2 separate regions of the Homo sapiens genome follow, and region 2 is reported to be linked to region 1. The links are microRNA targets in miRTarBase. Many come from high-throughput screens and were not tested one by one. Region 1 holds a microRNA gene; the other region holds the end of a gene's coding sequence.
Evidence for each region. Region 1 holds the annotated microRNA hsa-miR-583 (CAAAGAGGAAGGUCCCAUUAC, at 2,563-2,583, opposite strand). A microRNA usually pairs through its seed, bases 2 to 8, with sites in the 3' UTR of a target mRNA and lowers its output. Matches are read on the target gene's strand: a 7mer-m8 pairs with bases 2 to 8, a 7mer-A1 pairs with bases 2 to 7 and ends in A, and an 8mer does both.

Region 1 (7,998 bases):
TTTCTCCAGGCTGTAAAGACTTCATCTGCTGATCTGGGATCCCTCTATCTCTCTGAAGCAGGCTGGGAGTGGGTGAGCATCTGTTTATTTGCTGAGTTGTCCTCCATCTGGTCTTCAGTAGTCAGTCTAGGCAAGTTACTGCTGATTCTGTTCATGTTCCCTGAACAGAATGGCCCAGCTCTCTATTAACAAACTCCCTTGCCCCTTTAAGGTACATGGGATCATTCTGTTCTCTCACACCACACTGGGCCTCAGGAAACTCAGCAAGATTATCCTCTTCCCTTTCCCACTTCCGTGCTCCTCCTGACCACAAGAATATCGTTCTCTGATCCAATGCCATGCTGAGCTCTATGGGACTTCACAAGTTCCCTCAGGTCTCTCCACCTGGATGCCCTGTGCAGCCATTTCTACTCTGGGCTCTTACCTCCCTGGGCCCTACACAGGAAAGAGAACCTGGATTCCCTCTGTGTTCAGATTTCACATACCTCTTGGCAAACTCTGTCACTCTCCTTCTCCCTGTGCTGAGCTAGGGGAAAGGACAAGGCAGAGAGTCTCACTCCTTTGTCAGGAATCCACAGTGTCAACTCAACCTTTGCTTACTTCTGTCTGAAGAACTTTCTGTCCTCTGGAGCATGGAAGCTTGGGGGTGATTTATCCCAGTCATCATTTTATCTAGGCACATAGGCCTTTTGATTCCTTATAGGACCCAGACTTTTGAAACTTACAATCCAAGAAAAGAAAGTGCCATCTCTTCTTTGTGCATTGAAAATACAATACCAAAGCTGATAACATATAAAAGTTATCAGTTAAGGCTTCACACTCTTATCCTACCACATAACACAGGGGCTAAGAGAGCTCAAAGGGAAATTGTGCCTAGCTCAGCTGGGGCACTTGGGGAAGGTTTTAAAGAGAGGGCCCAGCCAGAGTTGAGTCTCCTAGGGTGAATCAGAGCTCAGCTCAACACTCAGACAAGGGGGAAGGTCATTCCACACACAGGGAACAACATGTGCAAAGTCACAGTTAGATGAGTCAGGATTTAAACTTATCTCCCACAATTGTCTAAGCCACATAAATCAGGTCTCATTTTGAGAATGGAATAAGCACAGACATAATTGTTGGAACTGGAAGATACTTTAGGGATCATCTAATCTAATCCCTGCATGTAACAGATAAGGACACTGAGGTCCAAAATGATGAACTTTAATCTAATGTTCAAAAACAAATTAAGACTAAATTCAGACTTTCACTTATACCTATGGTCAGGAACTTTACTCTCAATTTGCCCTGCCAAACTATCTCCTTCAAGCCAAAATGAGCATGAATTATATCAGTATTTGTAATAAGCTTAGTAGTGAGATTTTGTCAAGTTTCAAGAAGAAAAACAGTTATCATCCAATGATAGCATTAATATTTTTAAAAGAGAAAGTCCTGTTTTCCAGGAAAGTATCCTAGTGAGATAATTTATGTAGAATGTATTATATGTGGATATCAGCATGATGTACTTCTGTTAGGTCCTTTAATGCCCATAACACCTCTTCAAGGTATATACTATTATTTATACCCATTTTGCAGATAAGAAAACTGAGGTACAGAAAGTTGAGTAACTTGTCCTAGGTTATATGGCTAATAAGTCGTAGGCCAGTAGCAGGCAGTCAAACCCATAATAATTATGCTTTTAACCACTACAAGATCATATTTCTCTTCATGCTGTTATTCAACCTATAGATATACTACAAATATACTTACAAAACCACACAAATGCACGAATATGTATATATAAGGCTTTTCAGGCAGTGGGGTTTGCTTTTTAAAAGACTAGAAATAACCTAAATACCTATTATTAGAGGACTACTTTAATAAATTAAGGCATATCCTCATCATAGGGCCATTTAAAAGAATAGGATAAAGCTATTTGTGCTGATATAGAAAAATTTCTAAGAAACAAAACATGGTTAAGTTAAAAATAATAATAACCAAGATGTATATAGTATGTTCCTAATTGATTCTTAAAGGTTGCTATATAAACAATATTGAAGTTTGATTACGTAGAGAATGTTTGTGGAAGGGTGCTAGCAAGTAATTAGTAGTGGTTGCCTCTGAAGGGGAGACAGAGAGAACTAGGGATGTGAAATGAGAAGGAAATTCATTTTTCATTGTATATCTTTTTTGTAATTTACACTTTTTACCATATACAAATAAGAGTTATTCAGACTTTACAAACTACATTTTTTAAATTGTCAACTAATGCAATTTTTTATCCCAAGATATCTCTTCAACCTTAAGAATTAGTAAAAAACATACTTAAAAGTGGTTTCAAACACCCAAGTTATCATGTTTGTATTTACCTATAAGAGAGCTCTTTAAAAAGACTAGCCTTCCTAACCCTTGCCAGGATATTGAATCATTCCTGACTCACAAGAGAAAATAGCCAAATGAGTAACAAGCCTGATGCCATTTGGTAAGTGGGAGCTCAGGACAAAGAGTGTGGGTAGGGAGTGAAATGAAGGGGGCCCAGGGGAAAGTACCAAAGAGGTAGGTCCCAGTACTGCTAAGATCCCTGCAGTAATGGGACCTTCCTCTTTGGTTAATGTGTGAGTTGTAAGATGTAAAGAACAGCCTTCCTATCATTTAAATAGGTTTTTTTTTAACTTTAAGTGCATGGGTACATATACAGGTTTGTTACATAGGTAAACTTGTATCATGGGGTTTTGTTGTACAGATTATTTCATCACCCAGGTATTAAGTCTAGAACCCATTAATTATACTTCCTGATCCTCTCCTGCCTCCCACCCAGCACCCTCCAAAAGGCCCCAGTATGTGTTGTTTCCCTCTATGTGTCCCTATGTTCTCATCATTCAGCTCCCACTTATAAGTGAGAACATGCAATACTTGGTTTTCTGTTCCTGTGTTAGTTTGTTAAGGATAATGGTTTCCAGCTCCATCCATGTCACTGTGAAATACATTCTTAAATCTCAACACATACCACATGCCATCATCAATACCCACAAGACAAATTATGCTTAGTGATTGATTTAACTTGACATTAAGTGCTCTAACTACTTTCTTTCCACTTGTTCTTTCTTGGTTTGTTTCATTGTGTTCTATACCTATTAATTCAATTTTTAAAAGCTTGATCAAGATGGTGAAACCCCATCTCTACTAAAATATGAAAAAATTAGCCGGGCGTGGTGGCACATTCCTGTAATCCCAGCTACTTGGGAGGCTGAGTCAGGAGAATTGCTTGAACCTGGGAGGCGGAGGTTGCAGTGAGCTGAGATTGCACCATTGCACTCCAGGCTGGGCAACAAAAGCAAAACTCCGTCTAAAAAAAAAAAAAGCTTGATCAGATGTTCATGAAAATTTACCCCTGTCTTTAAGAATCACCAAGTACCCCTTAATTAGGAGGCTGTGTACTTGGGTAGACTGAAGTGGCCTGAGGGAGAAGGGGAGTGTTAAGAACTAAATGTTTGTGTCTCTCCCAAAATTCATATGTTGAAACCCCAATGTCATGGTGTCTAGAGATGGGGCCTCTGGAAGGTATTTAGGTTTAGATAAGGACATGAGGGTCGGGCTGTCACGATGGAATTAGTACCTTTATCATAAGAGACAAGAGAGCTTGTGCTCTCTCTCCCTCTGCCATGTGAGGGCACAGCAAGAAGCAGGATAATTTCTTTATTATACCAATTTAATAGTTACATCTGCTAAATGTAAAATGTAGTGAGATGGTTTCAGATAAATCTCACCTAAGAAAAAAATGTTCTAATGTTCCTGGTCTGAAGATTACTATAGCATAGGTAATCCAGCTATCCAGTAGTCAAAGTGTACTGTTCCTTACAGAAATAGTAAAACAGATTAAACAAGTTAGTTCATCTTATGTTGAGGCTGGATAATTTATAAAGAAAAGGGGTTTATTTGGCTTATGGTTCTGCAGGCTGTACAGGAAGCATGGCACCAGCATCTGCTTGTGGTGAGGGCATCAAGCTGCTTCCACTCATGGTAGAAGGAGAAGGGGAGCCAGTGTGTGCAGTATCACATGGCAAGAAAGGAAGCAGGAAAGGGAGAAGGAAGGTGTCAGACCCTTTAACAACCAGTTATTTCAGGAACTAATAGAGGGAGAACTTACAAACTCCCTCCCCTCATCAGGAAGGGCATTAATCTATCCATGAGGGATCTGGCCCCATGACCTAAGCAGCCCCACAATTTCAACATGAAGTTTGGGTGGATCAAATATCCAGACGATACCACAGAATTCACATGCAAATAAATACAACTAGCAAAAACAATAAAATCCACAAAGAAAAATGTGTATCTGCCTAATAATCAAAGAAATGCAAATTAAAGCAAATAAATGATAATACCAAATATACATAAAATTGCAGAGAAAGTTATACAGTCATGCTATATACACTTTAAAAAGTATTTGTCAATAAATAGCAAGAACCCTAAAGATGTTCGTAATCTTAACCATTATAACATTTCTGAGAATTTATTCATGAAAAAGTAATTCAACTGAATAATAAAATAAAAAGGTATATATGTTAAGATGTCAATATAATGTTATTTATGATATACATTTACATTTCTAAAATATACTTTAATAAAGTTGAAGGCTAAGTTGCCAGTAGCAGTCAGCAAATTAGGATAGATACTATGAAATATTAATCAGTCATTTAAAGAAGCAATTGTTAATAAGACTAAAAACATGGATAATTTTAATGTCAAGACAGAATGTTACATAAAAAAGCATAATATAAAATATTTTTATTATAAATATTATAAAATCTATATGCATGAAAAGAATTAGAAACTATTATGCAAAAATATATATCATATTGGGAAGATACAATTACTAATTAACTTTTAAATGTTTGCTTACATTATTATTGATATTTATTAAAAATAATGGGAATTTAGGACTCAAAGCTTTGTAAATATAATCTAAATACAAGGAGAAAAAAATGAACAACTTCACAAAATACAACCAATTTCAATCATTGAGCTTGATGGTTATTACTTTCCTTTTGTTTGTTTCCAAAAATTCATTGAATATTCTTATGACACAAATTCTTATGACGTGGCAAATGCTTTCAACTACAGAGACTGACTTCCTAAAACCCTGCCCTAAATGCTATAGCTACTAATTACTCAACTCCAGCAGCCCATTATGGTAAGGATGGCTCCAAAGTTGTTTTCCTCACTAAAATATTTGCTTTAAGCATTGTTTTTTATTTACACGCAGAAGGATTTGGGAGTCCAGGCCCAGAACCCGAGCCCCTTAGGGTTATGAAGAAGTACCTGTTAGTTCAGAAGGAAGATTATAAATTCCAACTGTTCTACTCCTTTTCGATATTTGCTTTTGTTGCCTAGAGGAAAGAAGAGGAATGTGTGTTTTTACTAAATATTTATGACTTTTCATCATATGTTGTTTAGAGCAATATGTTTAGAGTAGGGGTACTAAAAAACACTGAAGATAGACTTCCTTGGTTTTCAAATAGAATGCAGATAATCCCACAAAATGTTATTTGACCTTTTCCTTTACACTTTTATTCTCAGGCTCAGAGTCCAAAATTGTGGTTTCCAACCCTGAAAAAATAATCCTGGAACAGCTGGCCCATAGTGAAAACAGACCATCTTGACCTAGGGCGTGGTTGTCCAGGAAGAAAAAGAGTTATCAAGCAGACCCTGGACATTCACTCTAGAGCTGAAACATGAGTAGGATGCCCAGACAACGTTCACTTCTCCAAAGGCAAGAAGGCACAGACACCAATTAGAGAAATAAGATGAAGTTCCAGTTCCCCTTAGCCTGTTTTCAACACACATGCTTAAACCTAGTGGATTTAATGTGACAAACTCCCAAGGGAAAAAATTATTTTATTTAAATTTTGGTTTGCAAGGAAATGAGACAGTGTTTCATTCACCTTAAAGGGATCATTTAACCCATGAAATAAACATGCAGGCACATGCCCAGGGAATAAAGCAATCTGGCAGTAAGCTTAAAAATGATCCTTCCAGAAAGCATTACCTCTCTGCCTCTTTCCTCAACATGGCTCCAAATCTTCCCCTTTTGCTCAATGAAACTCAATACTTTGAAAACTCTATTTCTTCTTTTCCATATTTTTCTTTAGTTTGGGATGAATGAGAATTGCTTTTATTCTCTTGGCTTGGTCAATTAATTGGCAGTTTGTGGAAGTAGAACGAAAGCTGAACTGGAAATCTGAAAAATTGGTTTCGAGTCCCTACTTAGTCACAAATTAATTACATAATTATTGATAAGCCAGTTACCACTCTAGACATCTATTTCCTCATCTGTAAGACAAGAGGGGTGATAACTAGGATACCATGAAAGCTCAAAATGTCCGTAACTAATAGGAAAACATGTAGATGATGCCAAGAAATCCTAGTGGGAGGGTGTATATCTTTAAAAGCAGATGAAAAGTATTATAGAGTTGGTAAAGCCTTACATTTCATCTTTACCTGGCTTGATTTCTCAGAACTGAATCATTTCATGGGATGCATTTCTCTGAGAACTAAGAGACATATAGATCAAAACAAAGCTCTAAAAATAAAAGACGAACATATATTAGAAGAGGTGACTGTGAGCCAATGAACAAATTCCGGCAGTAGGAATTTCAAACATTCTTTAAGACCAAAGCAAACAAGTAGGAAGGAAAAATTTAGATGCCCATTTCAGTGCAGCTTTTCTTCCTGGCAGACCACTTCCTGGGGATATGCTTTCATTTTGCCAGCTCTGCAGCCTAAAGAAAAAGGTATCCTGGGCCAATTAATTTTCTAAGTTTCCACTGGTTTATTCACCATGTAAGAGCTAAATCATGATTAAGTTAGGGATGAGGAATATGCAAACAAGATACAGAAGAGTAAGAATAAGTATAACCCATAAATAATTCCAAAATCACACACTATGAAATAATTTCAACCTCTTCCTTATTCACCAAACTTTTCCTGTCTAGAGATGATAGCAAGTCACTGAATTTGCTGGTTTAACCTTTGTCCTTCTTTCTTCCCCATCTCAGAGCCAAGGTACTACAGGGTAAAATATGCCTTCTCATTCGTCATTTTGCATAGTCAGATTCTTTTGTGGGAAGCAGTGGAAACTTCCCACCTGTACTAGCCAGCCCAGGCTGCCATCACAAAATACCAAAGACTGTGGTGCCTTAAACAACAGCAATTTATTTTCTCATCAGCTGGAAGTCTGAGATAAGGGTACAAGCATAATTGGTTTCTGGTGAGGGCTCTCTTCAGCTTGTAGTGGCCACCTTCTCACTGTGTCTTCACATGGCAAAGAGACAGCAACAAGTTCTCAGGTGTCTCTTCTTGTAAGGGCACTAATTCCATTATGAAGGTCCAACCCTCGTGACCTCATCTAAACCTAATTACCTCCCAAGGTCCCTAACTCCAAATACCACCACACTGGGGGTGTTAGAGCTTCAACATACGTATTTTGAAGGAACATTATCCAGGCCAAAACATCAGTTAACCTACAAAAGAAATGGGCTTGTTAAAGGATATTGAATCACTTACAGAAACAAAGAGAAGTCTAGAGAAGCAATAGGGTAGTTCAGGGAAGCGAGGTAGCAGGTGCCAACAGTTAGCTCTTCCATGGTGTTCACTAGAAAGAATTAGTTCCAGCAAATTTTTCAGTCTGTGAGTCTCTCGATATAAAATTCAAACAACTCACAGAGAATGTGATTAGCCTAGCTTGGGTCATGCAGCCGGGAACCTTGATGAATAGTTTCACAGCACACCATAGAATGGGGGCAGGGGTGGGAGGATGATGGGAGAATAATTCTCTAAAGAAGAGAGATATGAATACAAGGTGGCTAAAAATCAATAAATACCCAGTGTTCTCTATCAAGAAAGAACTTTAGAACAGGGGTCCTCAACCCCTAGGCAAAGAACCGGTAGTGGTCCATGAGCTGTTAGGAACAGGGTCGCACAGCAGAAGGTGGGCAGCAGGTGAATGAGCATTACCGCCTGAGC
Region 2 (7,998 bases), not on the chromosome of region 1:
TGGGCTCAGTTCACCAGCCCAAACCACAGGGGAAGGAGCCGGACACCGGCCTCTCACCATTTTACACCCAAAGACAGGAGGTCAGGGCTCTGATGCTACTCTTCTGTTTGTAAAATATGGAACCACTTTCTTTGTACTGTTTGAGGTGAGCAGTGGCTCCAAACTGAGCAAGTGGTTAAAAAATGCCAAATGCAATTATACTGACTTATAATTATTTCACAGAAATATACTCTTACTCTCAGACTATTTAAATAAGCAGGAACAAGATGCAGGAGAAGCAGCAGCAGAGAGGAAAGAGGAATAGCCAGGGAATTTTTTTTGTTTTTTTTCTTCTTTAAAATACATACGAAGTGTAAAGAGAAAATGGCCAAAACCTCAAAACTACCATTGTTGAAAACAATATTAAAAGGACACAATCTAAAATCATGCTACAAAAATAGTGTTATCTTGTTTAACTAAATGTACATCTTTTTTTCCAATTCCATGATTGACAAGAGTGCTTATGCGACGCATGGAAGGCACCAGAGGTGAAGTGATTATTTGCCTTAAAATATACAAAGAATTGCCTACTTTGAAAAAAAAATAGTCATACTTGTAAATAAATAGTTTAGTGTTTCTGCCATGGGTTCCTGAACCCCTACAAATTTCAACATATACAAATAGTTTCAATTCCTACCATTCTCTTAGAGGGAACCACGTCAAACAAAATCAAGTTAGGAAAAGCACTGATTTTATCCAAGTAGGTCAATTTGAGGCAAGATTCAAAAACTCATTTTAAAATGGGTTACAGAGTGAAAGAGTTGGGAACAGGCAGCCCCCTTTGGGCCTGGGTCAGCCTACGAGTCCATCCCAGGTGTCCTGCCCTCACATCTGCCAGCCCTCAGGCCGGCCAGGTCTCCCTTCAAACCCTGAGTATTTGCCTTCCTCACTTCTGCGAAGAGGGGAACAGAATCTTGAAGCTTGCAAAATCGATTCTGGAAAAAGCAGGCAAGCAAAGCAGGGCCTGTGGGGGGAAGCAGCGTGAGTCAGGCCTCACCCTGGTGCAAGGGCACCAGCAGGTCTCCCTCCTCTCCCCTCCTCACCATCCCTACGCGTCTCCTCACCATCCCTACGCGTGACTGACTTTCCTGATAAAAATGGGATACTTCCTACTGGGTGTCAGCACTGTCATCCTAAGGCAACTCAGACGTGATAGTTTTAGACTATGATCAAATCTCACACAAACCATTATCAGAATCTTGTTTCACACCATCTCTCTTTTCAGGCAGTTATGAAAAGAAACTCTGACCTGGCCCTAAATCCCATCAGCAAAGCTGACTAAGGTGGTCTGAGATATGTTCTTACTCCTAAACTCAAACTTTAAAAGTTTCAATAGCTCCCTGGGGGTCCAAGCCAAAGGCTCCCTGGCCTTTGTGTATTATGCATCCCAAAGAAAACACGCCACCCCAGGTGTCTAGATAGCAAGTCACCTGAATTAAAGCCTCAGCATAAAAAAACAAACATAGACAACAAACTTACCCTATGAAATAGATACACAGTTCAAGGACCCATCATCTGAACTTTTCTAGGCAAGTTGCCAGTGATTCAAACTCAGCAGGTTTGTGGGTGATTTTTTCCTTACTGTTACGTTTGTGGAGTAGGAAAAACTAGAAAGGAAAAAAAAATCCCAAAGGTTGAAAAACTGTATCCAAATGGAAAAAGAATATATTCCAGACAAAAGAAGGGAAAATACAATAGGACCCACTCCGCTTCAAGCTAAAGAGTGTACAAAATGCCACTCACTTGCATGAAGAAGAATTAAACAGAACATTCACTTTCGGAAGAAAATTTTTCTAGACCTAACAGATATTGACGGTATTTTCTCTCACAGTTTCTAAATAAAAGAAACATAAAAGGTCAAATATTTTAAATTACTTTCTCAACCAGACAGTTCTTGTGACTTGAATGATATCTGCTGAGAAGAGAAGAAACACAAGATTCTACAAAGCGCCAGGGAAGTTTACAAAGCTAAAAGCTGAGGGTGTCAGGCCTGCGTCCTGTCTGAGATGGCAGCCAAGCCAGCTTCAGAGTCACCTGCTGGACCCACATGTTCCTGAGCCAGATGCCAGGAGCTCACCCACAGGACGGGAAAGACCTGTCCCCAGCATCCCACTCTTGCCCTCAAGCTGACTGTGGAACGCGAGACAGCTTTCAAAGACAAGAGGACAGGAAGGCAGTTAACAAAGTACACGTTTCCAAGACAGCCTGAGCTGTCTAGTGCTGATAGCAGACAGGTGGGGTGTTCCAGGCCACTGCTTCCTCCCTTATCTCCCAGACCTGGCCGTGTGTGGACCTCACCAGCCTACCAAGCTGTTGGGCCTGGACGTGGGTGCTGATAAAATAAGACAAACCTGGAAAAAACCCTGGATTCTGCAACTTCACTAGGAAATAACAAGGCACCTAGAGACTTCACAAGCTAATGGCAGTCCCTGGAGCAGGAAGCAACTTGTTATTCTGCTCAAGAGAATCCACCAGCAGCTCTTGGCCTAGAAACTTTTTCCCCTTTCTGATACCTGTTTAACGTCATTATTACTCTGTAAACAAGATCTGGAGAAGATGACAGTCAGGCAGTGGCACAAAGACTTCATGACTGTTTTGTTTTGAACACAGATGAGACAATAGGAACCCTTAAATCATCACTGCCTTGCAGAATCACTAAATTGTTCAGGTGTCTCCATGCTCTATTCATCTCCTAGGTGCTAAGACCAACCCACAGAAAATCTGGCACAGAAAGGGATTAGACCTCAGTCCACCTCTCAGAGCACATGGATAGGTGACGGGTTTCTCATGTGAATCTACAAGAAAAGGTACGCCTGGGCCACACGCAGGACATGGCACCCACTAGGGTTGTTCAGGTCTCATTCACTGCAAGCAAGAATTCACGTACATGAGTGCACAAAGGTGTTGGAGCTTGGTCTCCTCAGGCTTAACCCAAGGCTGACTCACTAGGACAGCTTCCAAGAACCACAGATGTAACTGCAAACTTGAAGAGAGTCAGAATGTTTTCAACTGAGTCACGAAGCTGTCCCAGAAGCACCCGACATAGGGTGGAGGTCAGACACATTCCCTGGCTGCCCACAGGCGTGAGCCTTCCTGCCAGGGGACAGTAACAGGGCCCGAAGGGCTGGGGGTGCCGCTGGCTTCCCAGGGCCAAGCGCTCAGAGCTGGGCCGGACTTGCCCATGCTGGCTTCAGCTCACATTGCCAAGGAAGATGTGTATTGGGGCTGTGCAGGCTGCCACATTCTTGCTTTTTCTGTAGACAAAAGTCACCTCCCTCGGATGGCTGTTTACTTCAAATCAAACTTCTCTGACGAGATTTTAATCTGAAACTGCATCTGTTCTTCCCAGCTTTATGTGGGGCCAACAAGTATCTCCAGCCTTTCATGACTGTAATCCCTCTTTAAGGCAGGGAAAACATATTTCCCTCCCATGCCTTCAGCAGTGTGAAAGAAGGATATCAAAGAGAATCAGAGGGAAAAAATACCAAATCCACCCAATCAGTGCCAAAATAAACTTTCTCTGAGGACATCAGTGTTTGCATCCATCTAAAACCACCAGAGGTTCCACCAAATGCTTGAGGGTTTCAGCTGTACAGTGTCCAGGAAAAAACCCAAATGCACACAGCAACTGCAGTTTCTTCAAGTTTTGCTTTAAATGTGAAAACCAATATCGTCCCACCAGAACACTGAGAAAAACTAAGGTCGCTCAGCCTTCAAATGCCCCAAACCAAACTGATATTGGTCCCTATTGAAACTATTAAACGCAAAAACGCTTCCTTCAATTTGCCAAGAGGTCATTTTAAGGCCCCCAGATATCGATTGTCTTCTGTTTGCATATAGAGGCAATATAAGAAAAATATAGGCGTCTTCATATTCACCTTGGATAACCCTATTCCCTCCAGAACTTTCGTCACCACGTGGTCTATACATGATGACATGTGCAACCACACATTACATCAACTAGAAAGCGTCCATAGCACCACTTCCGGTTCTAGTGGGAGTTAATTAAATACAAGGAGAACATTTACAAAACCACCGAGGAGCCTCACGGCACAAAGGATATTAAATAGTTACAGGGACATAAATAATTCTGAAGAGTCTATCACGAAGATGCAAATTAACTCCTAAGTCACTCTCTGGCGTGTCATCCTTTTTGGTCATTCATCTGCATTTAGTTTCAGTGACTTCAGAACTATTTCTTGCAGCTGACAACATATCCTCAGGAGGCCAACCACCTGCCCCCCTCTTTCACCAGATGATCAAGTGGTTTTACTGAAGTGAGCTGGGAAAACTTGGGCAACAAGCCCACCTGAATGGTGTTCTTGTTTTCAATCTCACTTCAAAGATGGCCTTTTTTGGGGGCCAAGTAACATGATTCCCAGCAGGAGATTTCTGATAAAGCTCAGGATGGTCCTTCCAAGTGGGCCCCATTTAATGCAAGGCTGAGCCTTTGTGGCCCTATTTTAAAAGGAACTCTCAAAGAGAGATAAGCCCAATTTTGACTTTGCAAACACACTCAACAGACCTGACAGGCAGCACACCCAGCTGTGAGCTGGCCTGGCTGCCCTCTCTGTGGGAGCAGAGGGGAGACGAGTTGTTAACAGGCTAGCAGGGTCAGCCCCTGAGGCAGACGTGGTGCTCAGCCACATAGCCTGGGACACTGCTCCCAACTCAGATCGTACTGAAGGTGTTGGTGCAGGAAGCTAACCCCAACTCCGACCCCCAGCCCAGCAGTGTTGCCTGATCAACACTGTGAGCTCAGATGCTGTCCTTTTCTGGGGAATGAGACGCCACATGTCCATAAGGTGACGCTTTCTTGCACAGACCCCCCGCCGCCCCCTCGGAGTTATTTATTACACAGTACGCTGCTAAAGCTGTCAACATTTGTCAGCACTTGATCTTGGGGATTTCTCCATGTTACTGCAAAATCTTCCTGCCACAGTAAGTGCTTTTTGGTGAGGGCTAAACACAAAATGTTAGAGCTAAAGTGAGGTTTGTAAACATTAAAAACAGTTCAAAGAGGGAAAACCTGACAAACTAAAACAACTTTTTTCCATAAAAGATATAATTACTCTCTAATTTTTTAAAAAAACTACTGCATCATGGGGACTCACTGAACTCATTCACCACACACAATAATCTTCACTTTATCAAGAATCAATCAGAAACCTTAAGTAGCTAGGATTTTTCCCCCCAACAACTCCCAAGAATGATGTCTACAGTTATGACACTGAGGCGCCCAAAGCGACAATTAGTGCCTTCTGAAACATGGGTGGAAGGGTGTGTTCTGGTGCAAATTCAAGTATTTTCAAATCCTAGACGAATCTGCTCAGAATCATTTTAGAACTCTTTGCAGGCATTTAGAAAATTAGCACACATCCCTAAAATAGAGGGGTGTGTGTGTGCATGTGTGCGCGCACGCGTGTGCATGCTGTTTTTTAACACAAACACCTCCCACCTGCGGTTCATGAAGCCAGCAAATGGGCAAGTGCTTTGGCTGGTGGAGTAGGCTTGTTTCTTTCATGGCTTTTACCTGAGAAGGTAAAATGACTGAAAATCTGCAATTCAGCCTCAAAGTATTTAGGGTAGGCAGGAAACTGGAAAACAAGATAGTCCCCATAACAAGATGGCCCCCATATTCCTGGAGAAGAATCTGGGGTTCAGGAAGGTGATTCATTTGAGGAAGAATCAAGTGATTTCTCAGCAGAGTAGGAAACAAAAGGTCACCCTTCCTTGAGTCAGAGGTCCCTGGGAGCCATCCTAACAGGACATCAGCTTTCCCCAGCCCTGTGGCCTTTGGGCTGGTGCTGGCTGCCTGGGGGCCCTGGCATGGAAGATGAGGAGTGGGCTGGATCCCAGCACGCAGACTCAACACTGACTTGGAGCAGGTGGTGCCTAAGGCTGCCTGAGAACCACTGCCGACTGACCGTTCCAATGCTGTCCCTTCATTCCTTCATATTTCCCCCCTCTTAGCAGCCCCATTTAATCCAAAGTCTTGTTACAAATACACACGACAAGGTGGCTCAGAGTCAAAGGAAGCCTGTGCTTCAGGGCAGGTAAGACCTCAAGTGGACCTGGGCAGTGACGCCGGCTGCTCCACAGCCCCAAACGCTGAGGAACGTGGGCCTCCCAACTCCACCGCGGACCCGCCCACTGGGCCACTCGGGAAACCCTTTCCCAAAATGAACTTTTACCAAAGAGGACAAAATTCAACTGAATCACATGGAAATCTGACAGGACAAGGGAAAGAAAACTTGACTGAGAGACAGGCACGAGGACGGGAGGGAGGAGGATCCAGGCAGGTCCTCACGTGTCCAGGCGCTGGATCTCAGGGCGACTGTCCACATCCCTGGACTCCGTGCGGGCTCGGATGTAGTCATTGGTGCTCTGCTGGCGGACGCTGACTCTCCATTTCTGCACTGCCAGGAATGTGTTCACTGCATATGCCGCAGTCGCCAAGAAGCCAAATATCTAAAAACACACCAGCACAGTTAGTCCTCGGGCACGTGGCCTGGCCCCTCAAGGCTTCTGTGGTGACCCAAGCCACATGCAGCCCCTTCCTGCTCTGCCAGCTGATCATTACAACCCTGTGCCTTCATTCCTTGATCTCTTCCCCCTCTCAGCAGCCCCATTTGATCTAAAGTCTTGTTTCAAATACATATGACGGGGTGGCTCAGAGTCAAAGGGAAGCCTGTGCCCAGCCCTGCTGGATGTGTGGCTGTCACACCACAGCTGAGTCTCTAGTCATGTGACACACAGAAAATCTTGCCTGACCTAAAGACAGCCTAAGGTTTCTTTTGAAGTATTTTGGACGTATAAAAAAATAAATCACAAAAGTACCTCTTTTACTGCAACTTCAGGGCCTCTGGTCCCAGATGAGAAAATACAGTGCAGACAAAATGTAACATAGACAGAAAATCAGGGTTTCGCATGTGGGTCCCAAATCAAGCCACAGGGCCAATGTTCCACATCACAGCCCCCATCCCACACCTGCCTCTCATGGGGCAGCTCCAAGTAAGCAGCTCCAGAGTAAGAAGCACAGAGTTTTAATTATTAAGACTTACAAATCGCCTGAGTGGCACCTGGGAGAGCAGTTCGTTTAATCATTTATAAACCTTTTAATCCCCCCATTACAAAAAGGATAACTGTTCCTCATAAACTGAGAACAATACAGAAATGCAGGGCATGGAGAGGGGAAGTCCTACATTATCTGGTCCCCACCTGCCGTGGCATTTCCACCTTGAAATGTCATGTGACTGCTAAATGGTGTCATGACTGCATTCAAGAACCCTCCCTTCCCCAGGCAGATAAGGCTCTTAGACATCAAGGACTGTGTTGGAAACGAACCAAAGCAGGGGTTCTTGAACTTGAGAGCACATCTGTATCATCCAGAGGGTTACTTCAAATACATTTCTGACTCAGTAGCTCTGGAGCGGAGCCTAAGGATGTCTAACAGATGCCAAGGCTGCTGTTCTGGGGCCCATACTTTGAGAACCACAGCACTGAAGGGACTGGGACCCCCACTGGCCCAGTAACATCATCTTTAGCAAAGAAAAGCCACAGGAGGGGGAGCAGGACACATGCCAGGGACAGGCGAGCAGGTCACAGGAGGTCCCCAGATCAGCTTGCTTTAACCATTTGAGTTTGCTTACCACGGCAGCAATTTCTGCTCCGGCTCTATGGTTTAAAGCAGCCAGTACGATTGAAGCAATAAAGAAAAGGAAAGCGCTGAGTCCAGTGTTGACCAAATCCTAAAGGGAGAGACAAAATAAACCAAGTGAAAAGAACCATTCCATCTTTGCTCTAAAAGCAACTGGAGAACTTTCAAAATAAGACCCACGATACCCAACCTCCCTGGTGGCTCCATATTTCAGTCTCAATGTCACAGGGTTACTGGTCACACAAAAGAAGGCAAAGTTAACAGTTTATGACACTACTTGATAAATCACCACCACAAAA

Region 2: miRTarBase lists CMTM4 as a target of hsa-miR-583. Seed matches in the 3' UTR shown: 7mer-m8 at 6,235-6,241, 7mer-m8 at 5,056-5,062, 7mer-A1 at 1,757-1,763, 7mer-A1 at 354-360 and 7mer-m8 at 293-299.

What each region holds. Positions count from the first base shown.
Region 1 is chr5:96,073,738-96,081,735 of GRCh38, reverse strand. It overlaps MIR583 (microRNA 583), which reads right to left and starts at 2,598; the gene lies at 2,524-2,598. The region is part of intron 1 of LOC101929710 (a long non-coding RNA gene); the gene reads right to left. It also overlaps a transcript of CAST not described here.
Region 2 is chr16:66,615,713-66,623,710 of GRCh38, forward strand. CMTM4 (CKLF like MARVEL transmembrane domain containing 4) reads right to left here. Exons shown (of 4, transcript NM_181521.3): 3 at 7,692-7,790; 4 at 1-6,510. The coding sequence ends at 6,346. Among named protein-coding and RNA genes, the nearest start is that of CMTM3, 15 kb to the left of the region's middle. RefSeq lists an enhancer at 4,170-4,671.